Linked DNA regions of Homo sapiens: region 1 is linked to region 2. The links come from fine-mapping of genetic effects on gene expression. Tissue or cell type: skeletal muscle. Region 2 holds a variant in brackets; the other region holds the start of a gene. All regions are shown on one strand. Distances are between the middles of the regions.

Region 1 (8,117 bases), 47 kb before region 2:
TTCTTTCCCAGCTCTGAGTCTGTTTTGGCTCCAGAATAAACTCCACTGTCCCCAAGCTGATAGCTTTCAGTTCCAATATTTTTTTCTCAGAAATGTACAGTCTCGTGGGAGCTCCTTGGTGAGCTTCTGTAGCCCCAAGGAAACATCTAAAGGGACCCTGATGTAAGTCATTAGTTTAGAGTCAATGAGATTGGGGACCCTAGAGGGCAGGGCTTCCTTCCATATGTATTTGTCCCCACACTGCTAGTCACAGAGTAGGTGGTTAATAAAAGATTAATTGAATAATTTACCTACTAAATGAATACTAAATCTCACAGTAATCTACCAATGATGTTAGAGAGAAAGAAGTTATATCTACAGATTAAAAGGCATATCAAATAATGCAATGTATGGACCTTGTTTGAATTTTTATTCAAAGATTTTTTAAATGAGGCAATTTGGAAATTTGAACACTGCCCTGCACCATGTTTTTTCTTTTTTTATTTGCTTTTTTTTGTTTGTTTGTTTTTGAGACAGAGTTTTGCTCTTGTTGCCCAGGCTGGAGTGCAATAGCACGATCTCAGCTCACCACAACCTCGGCCTCCCAGGTTCAAGTGATCCTCCTGCCTCCGCCTCCTAGTACCTAGGATTACAGGCGCGTGCCACCACGCCCAGCTAATTTTTGTATTTTTTAGTAGAGATGGAGCTTCACCATGTTGGCCAGGCTGGTCTGGGAATCCTGACCTCAGGTGATCTGCTCGCATTGGCCTTCCAAAGTGCTGGGATTACAGGTGTGAGCCACCGCACCCAGCCGTTTTTTTTGTTTGTTTGTTTTTGTTGTTTGTTTGTTTTTGTTTTTGTTTTTACTTTTAATGTCATCATTTAAAAATAGATTTTACATTAAGATCCAGATTTCGAGTTTATTTTGAAAAGTGGGAATATCTGGCCACAGATGGGCCCATCTGCCCACTCAGCGACCATGGGCTGGAATTAAGACGTGGTTACTCGCTTTTGGAGGTGGTTCCCACAGTCCCCATCTCAGGCCCAGAATAAGTGCTAATTCTTCCACAAAGACTTCTCTGATCACTCCAAACAGGACTGATTTCTCATCCCTTAGCCCTTGGAAGCCGTTTCAGTTACTCGCCTAAATCCTACTCATGCCACCTGTATGTGGTTATTCCTGGATGTCTTATCTCCCCTCTTCCTCCTACACCCTGGCTGGACTGAGGCCTTTAGAGGCTCTAAACACTGAAAAGACTAGTAGGGTGCCTCCCCATGTGTAATTCCCAATCAAATTTTATTTTTCAAAGTGACAGTGTTTACAAATAAGTTGAAGACAAACTTCTAGATTGAAAAAAACTCGGCTGGGCGCAGTGGTTCACATCTGTAATCCCAGCACTCTGGGATGCCAAGGAGGGTGAATCACTTGACCTCAGGAGTTGGAGACTAGACTGGTCAACATGGCAAAACCCCGTCTCTACTAAAAATACAAAAATTAGCCGGGCGTGGGGGTGCAGGTCTGTAATTCCTGCTACTTGGGAGGCTGAGGCAGGAGAATCGCTTGAACCCAGGAGGCGGAGGTTGCAGTGAGCCAGGACTGTACCACTGCACTCCAGCCTGGGTGATAGAGTGAGACTCCATCTCAAAAAATAAAGAAAAAATTATCTAACTTCTTATTTGGAAAAACCTCAAATCTTTACCCCTACATTCTTCAATATTTATGTCTTTTTTTGTGTTCGTGAGACAAAGTCTCATTCTGTCTCCCAGGCTGGAGTGCAGCAGGCAATCTCAGCTCACTGCAACCTCCGCCTCCTGGGTTCAAGCGATTCTCTTGCCTTAGCCTCCCGAGTAGCTGGAATTACAGGCATGTGCCACTACACCCAGGTAATTTTTGGGTTTTTGTCTTGTGTTTTTATTTTTTTCTAGAGATGGTGTTTCGCCATGTTGGGCCAGGCTGGTCTGGAACTCCTGAGCTCAAGCAATGTGCCGGCCTCAGCCTCCCAAAGTGCTGGGATTACAGGCGTGACTATTTATTTCTTAAGAAGAAGTGCATTTTCCTAGGTGACTACAACATCATTCCCACACCCAAGAAATTTGACCTTGATACAATATCATGTACCATACAGTTCATATTCAAATTTTCTAATTATGCCAGTAACGTATGCCCTTTCAAGCTTCTTTTAAAAATTAGGGTTGTAATCAAGGATCATACATTGCATGTGGTCTCTTTAGCCTCCTGTGATCTGGAACACTTCTCTGATTTTTGTTGTTAGTCTTTCATGACACTAATATTTTGAAGCATTGGGGCCAGTTATTTTGTGGACTATATCACAGTCTCTATCTCTGTCTGAATGTTTCTTCATTATTAGATTTGGGTTCAACATTTTTGCAAGAAACTACAAAGCTGATGTGTTTTGCTAAATTTTCTGTTTGCGGAGTTCCAGATAAGGTCATGAAAGCTGAACTTGTGTTTGTGTATGTGTGTGTGTTTTGTGGGCACCCTAATCATATGTGTGTCGTATTAATAATCATGAATGGCTACCATCCTGGATATCATGCAAAGCATTGGTCTCTGTATTTACTTAGAAGCAGAGCTTCGGGAGTTATAATGCCAAACTGTTTATTTTTGCCACTAGTTTTTTTTTTCTTCGAGACAGAGTCTCGCTCTGTTGCCCAGGCTGGAGTGCAGTGGCAGCTCTCGGCTCACTGCAACCTCCACCTCCCGGGTTCAAGCGATTCTCCTGCCTCAGCCTCCCGAGCAGCTGGGATTACAGGGGCCCGCCACGACGCCCAGCTAATTTTTGTATTTTTACTAGAGACGGGGTTTCCCCATGCTGGCCAGGCTGATCTTGAACTCCTGACTTCAGGTTATCCACCTGCCTGGGCCTCCCAAAGTGCTGGGGCTGGGATTACAGGTGTGAACCACCGTGCCTGGCCCCCCACTTGTATTAATCTACATCATCGCAAACACTTATTGACCACGTTTTAATTTTTGTTAAAATTGTAGGTGCAACGTAATGTCTTTTTTTTCTTTTTCTTTTCTTTTCTTTTTTTTTTTTTTTTTTTTTTTGAGACAGAGTCTCGCTCTGTCACCCAGGCTGGAGTGCAGTGGTGCTATCATGGCTCACTGCAAACTCCACCTCCCGGGTTCAAGCGATTCTCCTGCCTCAGCCTCCCAAGTAGCTGGGATTACAGGCACCCACCACCATGCCCGGCTAATTTTTGTATTTTTAGTAGAGTCGGAGTTTCACCATGTTGGCCAGGCTAGTCTCGAACTCCTGACCTCAAATGATCCACCCACCTCAGCCTCCCAAAATGCTAGGATTACAGGCATGAGCCACCGTGCCTGCCCCATATTACATATTATATATATTATATATTAATATATGTAACTTATGCTATCATTGCTAACATATGTAATATATGCTATTATTAGCTTCTTCCATTTTACAGCTCCCATGTCATTTGGAGACTCAGTGGTCTCGCCAAAGTGCCCATCTCACAAGTGGTCCAGCCCCATTTTGGGATCTCCTGCACCACACTTAATGGCCCCAACCATAAACTGCGTGCCTACAACTATGTCACTACACACACACTCACAACAGTGGTGACTCCACCTCATAAGGGCAAGCCCCCATGAAGTGAGGTCTGCCCCTTAAAGGAGCCTCAGGCCAATGACGGTTTTCCTTGTGAATGGGAAAAACATTCTGCAACCTGGTAGAGTCTCTCCCAAAATCCGGAGAGATTGATGCCAATAAGTCCTCTGCCTCTCTTTGAAGACTCACAAACATCTTAAAGATATTTCACCCAACTTTGAGACCTATGTGTCATGATTTATTGTGCAACAGTTTAGGGAAGCCTACTCATGATGGGGCCCCTAGCACCTCAAAGCAAGCCTGCGACTCCCAACCTCTCCCTAGGCTTCTTCCCCCAACTTGGGTCTTTCTTTGTGTAATGTTTCAAGGACTAGTAAACTCATGATACAAGCGCACCCAGGAGGCACGCCGTAAATGTTCTTTAAATGAATGAATGAATGAGGAAGGAATGTTACTGTGTTGCTAGGTAAAGGTGAAGAAAGGAATGTTGGGGGGGCCAAGCTGGGTGCTGATTGGCTAGTCCTCACAATGCAGTAGGGGCAGAGCACGGAACATAGGAGAGGGTTTCTTTAGACCAGGTAGTCGCTGCCCAGCCGGTCAGGACGTGGGACGCAAGGGGCAATCCTGCCCGGTTCGCAGGTCCGAGGCGGGCGCGGTGGCCCTTCGGGCCCCGCCCCGCCCCGCCCCGCCCCGCCCCGCCCACCGGCAGCCCGGCCACGACCCAAGCGGAGGCCGCGCCGACGCCTGCGCAATGTATGCGGAGAGCCACCACCGCCTCCGGTCCCGACTCCGATGATGGCGGACGGCGCCGCAGCTGGCGCTGGCGGCAGCCCATCCTTGAGAGAGCTGCGGGCACGGATGGGTGAGCGGGCGGGTGGCTCCCGGGGGTGGTTCGGGCCCGCGTGGGAGGCAGGGTTCCCGCAGTCCCCGGGCCGTCGGAGCGGCGCAGCGGGCGCCACAAAACTTTTCCCTGGAGTCGCCTCGTGCTATCTGGTCCTCCCCTCACCCCCGCCGGAGTGCCCTGGGATGGGACAGGGGCGGGGGCGGGGGGTTGAAATTGTCAGCCGACGCCGCGAGCCGCCTGAGTCCCGCCGCCAACGGTCGAACTGCCGCTGCCAACGGTCTGAGCCCCGCGGACGCGGCGCGAGGCAACTCACGGGCTCTGCTTCGACGGGCGGGGCGGGGGCGGCTGGAAGCCGGACCCCGCGGACCGCCCCGTGCCCCATCTGCCCTTGGGGGGCGGTGGCCGCCCGCGCAACCGCCCCAACGAACGCACAGCTGCCTGGGATGTGCGGGCGCCCGCAGGGACTCCGCGCGCCGGCGCCGCCTCCGCCGCCAGGCAGCCTTTCCAGGCACGGAAAGTTTGAGTTATCCCCCAGCCCGGGTCGTGGGCGAGTTTAGGCGCTTTTACTGTCGCAGTCCTTGCCTCTCCCAAAGGCTTACCTCCTGCACCCTCCCGGTCAAGGTCCAGGGAGGAAGCTGGGTGAGGGTGGGGATGCTTAAAAGTTGCTTTAAAAGTTGGGATGAAACTTGGCTCTTTGCATCTCCTGATTTGCCTGCTGTAGCACATGACTTCAACAAGATGTCATCTTCTGTGGGACATCTTGCAGTCTCTAGGCTGAACTGAACGGGAATCAGCACTTCAGAGTGCTTTTTCCTCAACTAGTCCCATCGCCAAAACGTTTTTCCCTCCTCGAAAACCGTTAATCTTATACAATTTGACAGCACATTGCTTGGTCCAGGAGACTGCTCCACTACCTGAGATAGGATTTCTTCCTTTCAGGAGGTTGCTTTTAGCCTGTTAGACTAGTTCCCTCTGCTATGAGCGCGAATAAAACGATTTTATTAATTTTAATTGAATTTCTTAGGGGTTTTTTTGCATTTGCAATTAAAAAGTTAGATTGTTTACGATTGGGAAGCTATATGTTACTTGAGAAGACTTTGAATCAGCTCTCCAAAGACTGTGTCAGAAGCATATACTACATACACTTTCACCATTCATTAGGGAGAAAAGAATCTTCCTTCCGTGTCTATACTTATGGTTCACCTAGAAAGACAGTCTCCAATAAATTGTGTTGCTTATTGGTACCTGTGGCTCTCAGGCACTGGTTTATTTCAGTGATTTAGATTAACCAGCATTACTCCAATATGGTGAAGAAGCTGTGAACCGGATAAACCCCTAAAAGCATTTGTATATCAGATGTTGGAAAGTGTTTTAAAATTATATATGGGACAGATACTGGAATTCACAGCATTTCAAACCAAAAACTTAAGAGCCATGTAAAAGTCTTAACCTAGGACCCTGGTTTAAAACCTTGCTGCCCACTTCATGTTAGGAATTGTAAATATCGCATGTTAGACTTTTTTCACAGAGCACCAACTTGACCAGAACTGCCCTTTAGATCTCAGCGTTTTCCTGAAGGGGTCAAGGAGACAGATGTTTTTGCTAAAATGTTGTTTTCATCTTCTGCTGGCAGTCTGGCAGCAAGAGTTAAAACTGTCTTGAATACATAACATATAAATGCATAGCACAGTCAAAATACATTTATTTTATACATTTATGTATGCATGCAATAGATACATGTATATATATATGTGTTACATATAAAGTGTAAATATATATTTGTTGAGTGATGTTTTCTGTGCATAGCACTGTGCTGAGGTTGTAGCATACCAAATATTTAACAAAACACGTGTTTATATTTTTATGCAGAATTGTTTTAAAATAAAAATTTATTTGAATATTTCAACCAGATGAGCATAAGAAACTTGCCACTGACGTATCACCTTTCCCTTCTTGTTTTTCTAAATTCACCAGTGTTTCTCAGTTTAGAATAACTTTTTCAAAGAATAATTTCTACCAATGCAGAAAAAGCTACGGAGATTGACAGCTAGATTATCATAGAATTTTAGAGTTGGAGAAACCTTAAGATGATCTTGTCAGGCATCCAGAGTCCCAGCTGTAAAATCCTGGGGCACTTCTGCCACTTGAATGGGCACTCTCATGAGGAGCTTAATATTTTTCCAAGTAGCCATTCCATTGTAGACAGCTCTAAATGGTAGAAAATTGTCTCCAGTTTTGTCTTCAAGACATGCTATCTTTGGTTTGAACTTGGAGGTCTTCTGAAAGTCTCAGCCCTATGACTTTGGCTTTTGCTATTTGAGGCAAAATTCTGTGAATCTGCCTGATTTTTATGGTTCTCTGATGGCAGATTTCTTTTCCTGTTATTTTTTCTTAATATTTCAAAATAAAGTTGCTTTGAAATTTACAGTTAAATCAAGTTCTGGCTTCACCACTTACTACCTGTGTGAACTGGGAAAGTTATGTTTAGCTTCAGTTTTTTCAACTATAAAAAAAATTGGGGAAAATAATTACGTCCACTTTATAGGATTGTTGTAAGAATTACATGAAGTAATACAAATGAACTTTGTAAATGGTGAAATGGTATATAATATGTGTTATGGAAGTTTTTAGAAAAGTTCTATAAATACAGATTAAGATTCATAATTCAGTTTTAGTAATACACTACACATTTTCTTATTTAATCTCTGGGCAAAATATAACTTTTACTTTAATTTTGGATTTAGAATTAGTATAAGGACTACAGAAATACCTTGCTGTTACTTTTAACTGAATATTAAGTAAATTCCCTCATTCATTTAAATGCATGTTAAGTAAATTCTTTCATTCAATGAAGTTGAATAAAATGTTGACTTTATTATATCCAGACATAAAGGTGTTATCCCATTTTCTGGACATTTTAAATAATTTTTAAACCCTGTCCTTTCTGTTAATGTATTTCTTACCAGTAGGAATTTGGATACAAAGGTCTAAAAATCAGATTTGATACTACTACCACATTAACCTTTATATGATTCGGTTCATTATTCTCACCACAGCTACTTCTAAGGTTATTTCTGTTTAATAAGATTTTTAATTAGCCTGGTAAAAGTATACTTTTTTTGAGACAGGGTTGCCCAGGCTGGAGTGCAGTGGGATGCTAAAGGCTCACTGCAGCCTCAAACTCTTGGGCTCAGCCTCCTGAGTAGCTGAGACTACAGGCATGCACCACCACACCCAGCTAATTTTTGTATTTTTAGAGATGGGAGTTTGCCATGTTGGCCAGGCTGGTTCCAAACTCCTGACCTCAAGTGATCCACTTGCCTTGGCCTCCCAAAGTGCTGGGATTACAGGCATGAGCCACCACTCTGGGCCAAAAATGTAGATTTTGAGGGAAATTATCAGCTAAATAGTGTCAAATACGGACTATCCTTGGGACTTCTAAGCAGGAGAACTGAATGTGTAAAAACAATACTACAAGTACTTTATTGTTTTCTCTGCACTCACATAAAAATGTTGCAAGTGGGTATATAGGAGTGTCTATAGACCAAGAATTTTTGTTAATATACTAGTGCTCAAATTCAGAAAATAATTGTGGTCCATGGAATTGCCAGTACTTAAATTATTAAGGAAGCTGAGAAGAGTCTAATCCTCAAATTAAGCTAGGTCATATATTATCTGGGCTGTTCGGCCTCTGGGGT
Region 2 (7,623 bases):
AGGTGAGCCCCTATGTGAGGTTACACAGCCCCTAAGTGGTGGAGGCAGGCTTCTAGAGCCAGGGCTGCCCAGCTCAGCATGCCATACGGGCCACCCGCACCACCAGGCTGAGGATGCGTACTGACAGCCTGACTTGGCTGTGGCACTGCTTCCTAATCCACGATCTCCTCATCTGTAAAACGGGAATAATAATTCCTACGTCACAGGGCTGTCGTGAGGATGGAATGGGATAGTGTGTGTGGAAGTGCTCTGCAAACTGTCAAACACTTCTAGAAACAACGGTCAATGCAGAACTCCCTTGAAAGCATACCTTGTTGCACTTCACGCAATGCTTGGCAAACTTGGTCTCATGGCAAGTCACGCAGTAGAAGTCCTCCCCTTTAGGGAAGAAGCTTCCAGTCCCGATGACTTGCTTGCAGTTACTACAGGTGAAGCAGTCTTTGTGCCAGACGGTCCCCTTGTACTCCACGTTTTGATCTCCTGCAGAGGGAAGCAATTGGATAGCCCCACTGACAGGCTCTGCAGGGGGCTGCATCCACTCAGCTCCCCTCCCCAGGCCCTCCAGAGGTGAGGGGATGCAGGCCCTGCAGTTACTGGCCTCACACCTCCAACTAACCTACCTGTGTTCTACTTGTGCTTGTGCCAACCCAGGATTTCTGTCATGGGTGGGGACCCCAGCATTATTATTTTAGGATCCAGTGCCTGAATCCCCCACTCCCCCACCTCTATACCCTGCGTGCACTTAGACATTAAATCAGGGACTGCCTGGCCCAGAATGACACCCTGAGGAAGAAGCATGCTTTCATCACTTACTACGCCCAAATGAGAAAGCGCTACATACTGTTCACTTCATTCTGTTGCCACAGGCTGTTCTCGCCAGTGTTCTTTAGTCTCCGAGTGTGTGCGTGTGTGCGAGCATATATGTGTACGCATATATACGTGTATGTATATGTGTACATATATATGCTAAGATCTCAAAGCAGCTCAGAGCAACGTTAGCCCCACCATGATAAGCAAGCCCACATCACGTCTGCCCTCAGGGCCTCCTCCCTGGGAACCCGGGGTGGGAAGGAGGCAGTACCTGCCACAATGGCCTTGAAGCACCCCTTGCACTTGGGGGAGTCCTCCCGAGTGGTGCACTTGTTGCACAGGATCTTGTTGTCCTTGGCCACAAAGGTCTCATTGGCCAAGGGGTGAAGGCACTTGGCACAGCGGAAGCAGGTGTCATGCCAGAAGCGGTTCTTATAGTGCACCTCCTGGAAACCAAGCAGACAGGGTGGGCCACCATGAGGGGTGCTGGGGGTGGTGGCAGGAGCCCTCCCATAAGGCTGATTTCCCTGGGACTGACCACTGAGATGACACAGTCCCTTACACCTGGGACTGCCCCACAGTGACTATTCTTATAGGAGGGACGCTGAGGTGAGGATAAAAATCTCACAATTCTTGAAATATTTAGAATGCAATCAAAAGAGCTGGCAAGGGCGCTGGCGCCCATCCAGTCAAGCCCCACATTAAACAGCTCGGGCCACTGTGGCCTGGGGAGTGGAGGAGGCTTCCTTGAGGCCTCAAGGTGGCTGCAGTGATGCTGGGAAATCCTAACAGCCAGCTGCTGCTGCCATGGTTGTGGGCAAAGGACACTCCAAAACCCAGCCCTTCCCATTGGCACATGGGGATGCCCGTTACCTTGGAGTCCGCACCGATGGGCTTGCGGCATTCCACACAGGTGTTGGCACAGAACTTGTCAAAGCATTTCAGGCAGCAGTGGTGGCCATCCTTTTGCACATACTTCTTCCCCTGCAAGGGATCCCTGCAGTAGTGGCAGTCAAACTTCTCCGCCATGGTGCCCACCTTGTAGCTGGAGGGACCTGCGGGGGCAAGCAGACAGGACAAATGACCACAGGAAATGCCCCAGCACCCTGAGCAGTGGCTCCCAGAGGCACCTGCACAATGCTGCCTTGGAGTCCATGGGGTCTGAGGACCAAGACCCAGCTTCCCCTTCAGCCGAGCTGACTACCAGGCACCAAGACAACAGATACTTCACTATGATTCCAGGAACAAAAGCACCCCGCGGGGCCAGATGGCCGATGGCTAGTGATTCCCTGGGGAGATGGTAGAA[G/A]CCCCTGCTCAGATATATCAACTGTGCTGATTCACAAAAGATGCGGAGCGGGGCAAGTGGATCAGAGCCTGTGTTGGCCAAGTCACCAGATAGGGGACAGGATGCTGGGAGGTATGGCTGAGCAGTGCTATTGTGCCATTGAGCAGTGACCCGATGGAGTGGAGGGGTGTGATGGGGCAGGCAGGCAAGAAGCAGTTGTTTTATACAAAGGAAGAGTGTGGGGCAGAGGCTCAAAGGGGTGCAGGAAAGCAGGGGCCCCGCCTGCAGGCAGCAGCTTCTCTAAGCCCACCACGTTGTCATCAAGAAGCCTCTCTGCCCGCTTTCAGCTCTTCCTCCGTCTCTTTTTAGGGAGGGTAGTATCCTCTGGAGGCCTCCCGTTCCTCCTATCTATAAAATTCTATTCATCAGAATAGAAACTGACAGCTCATTCTGTACCACACCAGGTACCTAAGCAATCCTTGTTAATTTGTTTAAAATGTTTAAATTTACTTGCAATTTAGCAGAAAAGTGTTAAATCCCTGAATAGATCCTAAAGAGTTTTGTCCAAGAGAGTTTACTGCCTTTTGAGGCCAGAGCAATATAGCAAGAGAGGACTTATATAAATGGCTTTGTCAATTGGCACAGGCAAGTTTGGCAACCTTGAATTATCTGTCATAGTCACGGGTGGCTTTGTGACCAAAATCAAACCCTCCCTTGAGTCAAGCAAGTGAGAATCAATATGCTCATAGAAGTGTAACCAGTATTACCATTTGGGATATTTGCTGTCTTAAAAATTATAATCTTAAAATAGAGTCTGGAAAAAATTATTCCAAGAATCCCTTCCACTCCCTCCGTATGAACAACCCCTCTTCCCTCCCTGGTCCCCTCCCCGGCTGTGGCCCTAGACAACACGCCTGCAATCCCAAGCATTACTAAGGCACTCTGCAGCTCCCTTTGCCAAGGCATTTCCTATAGAATCCTGCCACCCAAAAGGTACCAAATATGAGTTTCTATTAGCTTTCAACTTCTTTAAACATATGCTAATTTGTTCCTCTCCCCCGAAAAAGAAATTTGCACGGGTAAATAGATAGCAATTATTTCATTTGTGCAGGAAATACAAGAATTGAGACTACTTTCTAAAACTATCCACAAACATGGTTATTGTGCTAGCAAACTTCCAGCGTAATTTAGAGAGAAAGAATGAGAGAAAATAAATGAGCAGTTGCCTGGTACTCACCGCAGCTCTTCCACTAACTGAAAGCCCCAAAGTCTCACTTTGGGTTCCATTCCCAGGTTTTTTTTATACAAACACATGTCCAAGTTATTTGGATCTTGTTGCCATGAGCAACCAAACAGCAGAGAGTGAGCTAAGGAAACCACACCCTGTGTTTGAGAAGCCGCCTGGGCAAAGGCTGTTGAACTCTCACTCAGAACCAAGCCTCCAAACAAAGGAAATCAGGCCACTGGATGAGCCACAGGGCCTTCTGCCTCCTGCTGACACACAGACCCCCCTCATCTCTAAGGAGCTGGCAGATGAAGCAGATGAGTGACATTCTTGTGCAAGGACAGTTGCTTAGGACAGTTGTGTCACAATTAAGAGACTTAGCAAGACCAGAGAATGGTTCTAACTTGAACTTTTCTCTAAAAAGCAAACTGGGATGTTTCTTTATATAATGGGTTAGAAACAAAAACTAGAGACGCAATGGACACAGGGCCTATCTCCTTGAACTATGTACTGTTTAGGTAAGGAAGCTTTTAAACTGCTTTTAGCCTGTGTGTCTACAGAGAAAAGTACCTGTCCCAGTGACAGCATATGGAAAATCACTCTCTTTAATCCATTCTTGTTGGTCTTTCCAGTGTCACACAGAAGCCTCGTCTTAGCTTTGCCATACTGATAATATTGTGCCCTCAACAAAGACTTGCTTTCTTGTTAAGGGCTGAGTTGAGAAACCAAATAAATCTCCAGTAACGGCAAGTGGCAAGAAATAAATTATCAGTTGCTCCTAAATGCCATTTGGCAGGAAAACAGAATTTGTAAGATTAGACAGCACTGGCTTCCTGCATGGCTAGTAACCATTGCTGGTTTAGCCTTTCAGAGACTATCTTCTGGACCATATTTGAAAATCCCTCATTCTCTCTTACCAAGGTCTCTATTTAGTATACAACTTTGAACCTACTCGTTTTAGTATCACTTGCTTTTGATACCTTTATAAGCAGAAATTGATTCCAAATATTTCTAAGTTAAAGTACTATATAAAGTTCCACCTAAGGTGAGTCAAACCTCTTAGTATTTGAGTCCTAGCTTTATGGTAAGAAATACAGGTTAACTAGTGTCATACCAAAGAAAAAACACTAGAAAACACAATGAATGCCATTTAGAAGTAGAGGTTTTGAAGAGAAGGAAAACTGCATTATGGTTCAAAGTACCTGAGAGATCTTAACTGCCATGTTTTTCACACTTTAAAACCACACACTTTCAGTACTTTGATATTACCAGTGCAAAGTTCTTCATTGTTTAGTCTCATAGTTCTAGAACATGACTTGCTCAGAGTTCTAAGCATCCAGATGATAAAATAATCCACAGCTCACCAGTGAAGATAGAAGTAACAAAGGGTGTTGAAAATGTCAGACAATGAAGTCACTGGCCACTGTATCATTCCTATAGTACATGGTCTTAAACCAAGCAAAAGGAAAATTAAATGAATCAACCCCAAGTTAATAGTACCCATAAGAAGAGTTTCATCTCTTGGTATTTTTGAATCCTAGCTTTAGGCAAGATTTTTTCACTCTGAGTTTGAAAACTCTAGGGTCACCTTACACCTTAGATTCCCCACCACTCTATACTTAAACCTGCAGTCTGTATCCAGATGGAGAATCATTTCAAAGGGCATATTCTTTTAGAATACATTTCTACAATTCACTTGAGTCCTTTTAATGTGTGTGGAAACAATTAGTCTAGATAAAATAGGCACTTCTAGGAATGTTGGATTTGTTGCATAATAAGTAAACAGGCTAGAAATACTTAAAGTATGTTAACAATGTCTATGTCAAATTCATGAACTTTCGTATTTGTTTTGCAATAAATCAAATTAAGTGGAACTCTGGGCAACCTGAATTAGCTTACGTCACGTACTTCTAAATTTATGATTATTTGTTACAAAACAATTTCAAACCCTCATGCACGCAGTGTGCTCAGGATGAAGTTGGAGGAGATACTGATCACGTCACAATTTTGTATAAAATATGAATGATGTGCTGATGTGCACAAGACCAAAACAACTCTAAAAAGCCAGCTTATAAATGACAATGCTGAGACACACATGCAAAGATCCTGAGTGTGGGCTCCCTGAGTCTGAGCTACTATCAAGCTTTGACTTCATGAGGAGAGAAAAGCTTGCTCTTTCTTTCTTTCTTTTTTATTTTAGACGGAGTCTCGCTCTGTCACCAGGCTGGAGTGCAGTGGCGCAATCTTGGATCACTGTAACCTCTGCCTCCTGGGTTCAAGTGATTCTCCTGCCTCAGCCTCCCGAGTAGCTGGAACTACAGGCATGTGACACCACACCCAGCTAATTTTTGTATTTTTAGTAGAGACAGGGTTTCACCATGTTGGCCAGGATGGTCTCGATCTCCTGACCTCATGATCCACCTGCCTTGGCCTCCCAAAGTGCATTTTACAGGCGTGAGCCACCGCACCTGAGATTACAGGGGTTACAGGCATGAGCCACCGCGTCCATCCCAGCTTGCACTTTCTTTTGTTTGAAATGAGAGAATAGGGAAAAATGAAGATAGCATTTTACCTCTTTGTTGTTGTTGAGACAGGGTCTCGCTCTGTCACCCAGGCTGAAGTGCAGTGGTGCTATCCTGGCTCACTGCAACCTCCACCTCCTGGGTTCAAGCAATTCTCCTACCTTAGCCTCCTGAGTAGCTAGGACTATAGGTGAATGCCACCACGCCTGGCTAATTTTTGTATTTTTAGTAGAGACGGGGTTTCGCCATGTCGGGCAGGCTGGTCTTGAACTCCTGACCTCAAGTGATCTGCCCACCTCGGCCTCCCAACTTGATGGGATTGCAGGCATGAGCCACCATGCCCAGCCAGCATTTTACCTCTTCTTTTGGGCTCTCTTCAACCTTACAGAATTACATGTACTTAGGCATTTATTTCTTAGGGAATAATTTTTTATCCCCTTAGCTATTTCTAAGTACATGAAATGTGAAGGCCTTTAATCTTCCAGAACTTCTAGATATGTCTGCCTTGACCTATTGCTGTTATCCGGGAATGGGAGTGTCAGCCATCATTGAAGGAAACAATTGCTACACATCATCACCATGCTTCTTCCCTTACCACTTGTCTTTGTGGAGGGCATGTTTGCCCTCGGGCAGCTCTTTGACTAATTTTAATGTCTCGGTGTAGCCCTCATCTGTACATAGTAGGGATGCCAGAGTAGGTATTAGACATGAGCAGGGCAAGAGAGGGCCCCCCACCCAACCAGGAATGTCAGGCGGCCATCAGGTGAAGGTCAGATGGTTGTTAAACTATCTCTCGCTAAAATAATAATTGGTTGCAGCTGGCACCAAGGAAACACGGTCCCTAATAGACAGAAACACCTGAAACTGATGCTCAGCCACGTCCCCATGAGATCTCAGGAGGTGGGTAATTGGGCTCAAGCATGTGCACTAAGAGGCAAAATTGCGGTGTTTAACTGGTATAAGACCTACCTCTGGGAATGCTCTACTGCTAAGGGAAAAATCGCTTAAAGTAAGCATGCACACAACTTCAGTAAACACCACGCATGCGGCACTTCCCAAGTGCTGGCAGGCCACTGGGCATGCGGACAGCCCACCCCAAGGGAAGAATCAGGAGAGAAGTAATATAACACCCGAATCATGCCAACATATAAAAGCCCAGGTCAAAGGTCAAACCATGCACTTTTTGAATCTCTCAAGTAGCCTGCTTGGTCATCTTCTAAATGTACTTTACTTTCATTCCTGCTCTGAAACTTTATTTTATTTTTTGAGACGGAGTCTCACTTTGTCACCCAGGCTGCAGTGCAATGGTGCAATCTCTGTTCACTGTAACTTCCGCCTCCCAGGTTCAAGCAATTCTCCTGCCTCAGCCTCCCAAGTAGCTGGGATTACATGCGTGCACCACCAAGCCTGGCTAATTTTTGTATTTTTAGTAGAGACAGAGTTTCAGCATGTTGACCAGGCTGGTCTCCAACTCCTGACCTCAAGTAATCCACCCGCCTCAGCCTCCCAAAGTGCTGGCATTACAGGCATGAGCCACCGTGCCCGGCCTCCTGCTCTAAAAGTTTTTAATAAACTTTCACTCCTGCTCTAAAAGTTGCCTTGGCTTCTCCCTCTGCCTTGTTCTTCCTTGAGGAGGCAAGAAATGAGGTTGCTACAGACCCACAGATTCCCCGCTGCTAACATACTTTGGTGCCGAGTGACTTGGATACATTCCCTAGTGCTAACAAGTGGGGTTTCTCTATGACAGAAAGTTCTGCTCATACACTAGGGGGCCCCAGTAC

Which allele goes with the higher level. Positions count from the first base shown, and alleles are read on the strand shown. Sizes are in standard deviations (SD) of each study's normalised expression.
As copies of A replace G in region 2, the expression in skeletal muscle of the gene that starts at base 4,326 in region 1 goes up (small effect, 0.31 SD a copy in GTEx).

The links. PIP is the estimated chance that this variant, and not a neighbour inherited with it, causes the effect.
Region 1: it holds the start of MAP7D3, and the variant in region 2 is fine-mapped to the expression of MAP7D3 in skeletal muscle (GTEx, PIP 0.92).

Annotation. Positions count from the first base shown.
Region 1 is chrX:136,247,609-136,255,725 of GRCh38, reverse strand. MAP7D3 (MAP7 domain containing 3) reads left to right here and starts at 4,326. Exons shown (of 19, transcript NM_024597.4): 1 at 4,326-4,437. The coding sequence starts at 4,368. RefSeq lists a silencer at 4,220-4,609.
Region 2 is chrX:136,200,649-136,208,271 of GRCh38, reverse strand. It overlaps FHL1 (four and a half LIM domains 1), which reads right to left. Exons shown (of 6, transcript NM_001159699.2): 2 at 1,684-1,865; 3 at 1,082-1,256; 4 at 311-480. Among named protein-coding and RNA genes, the nearest start is that of FHL1, 7.4 kb to the right of the region's middle. The variant G/A (reference allele first, on the strand shown) is at 2,117.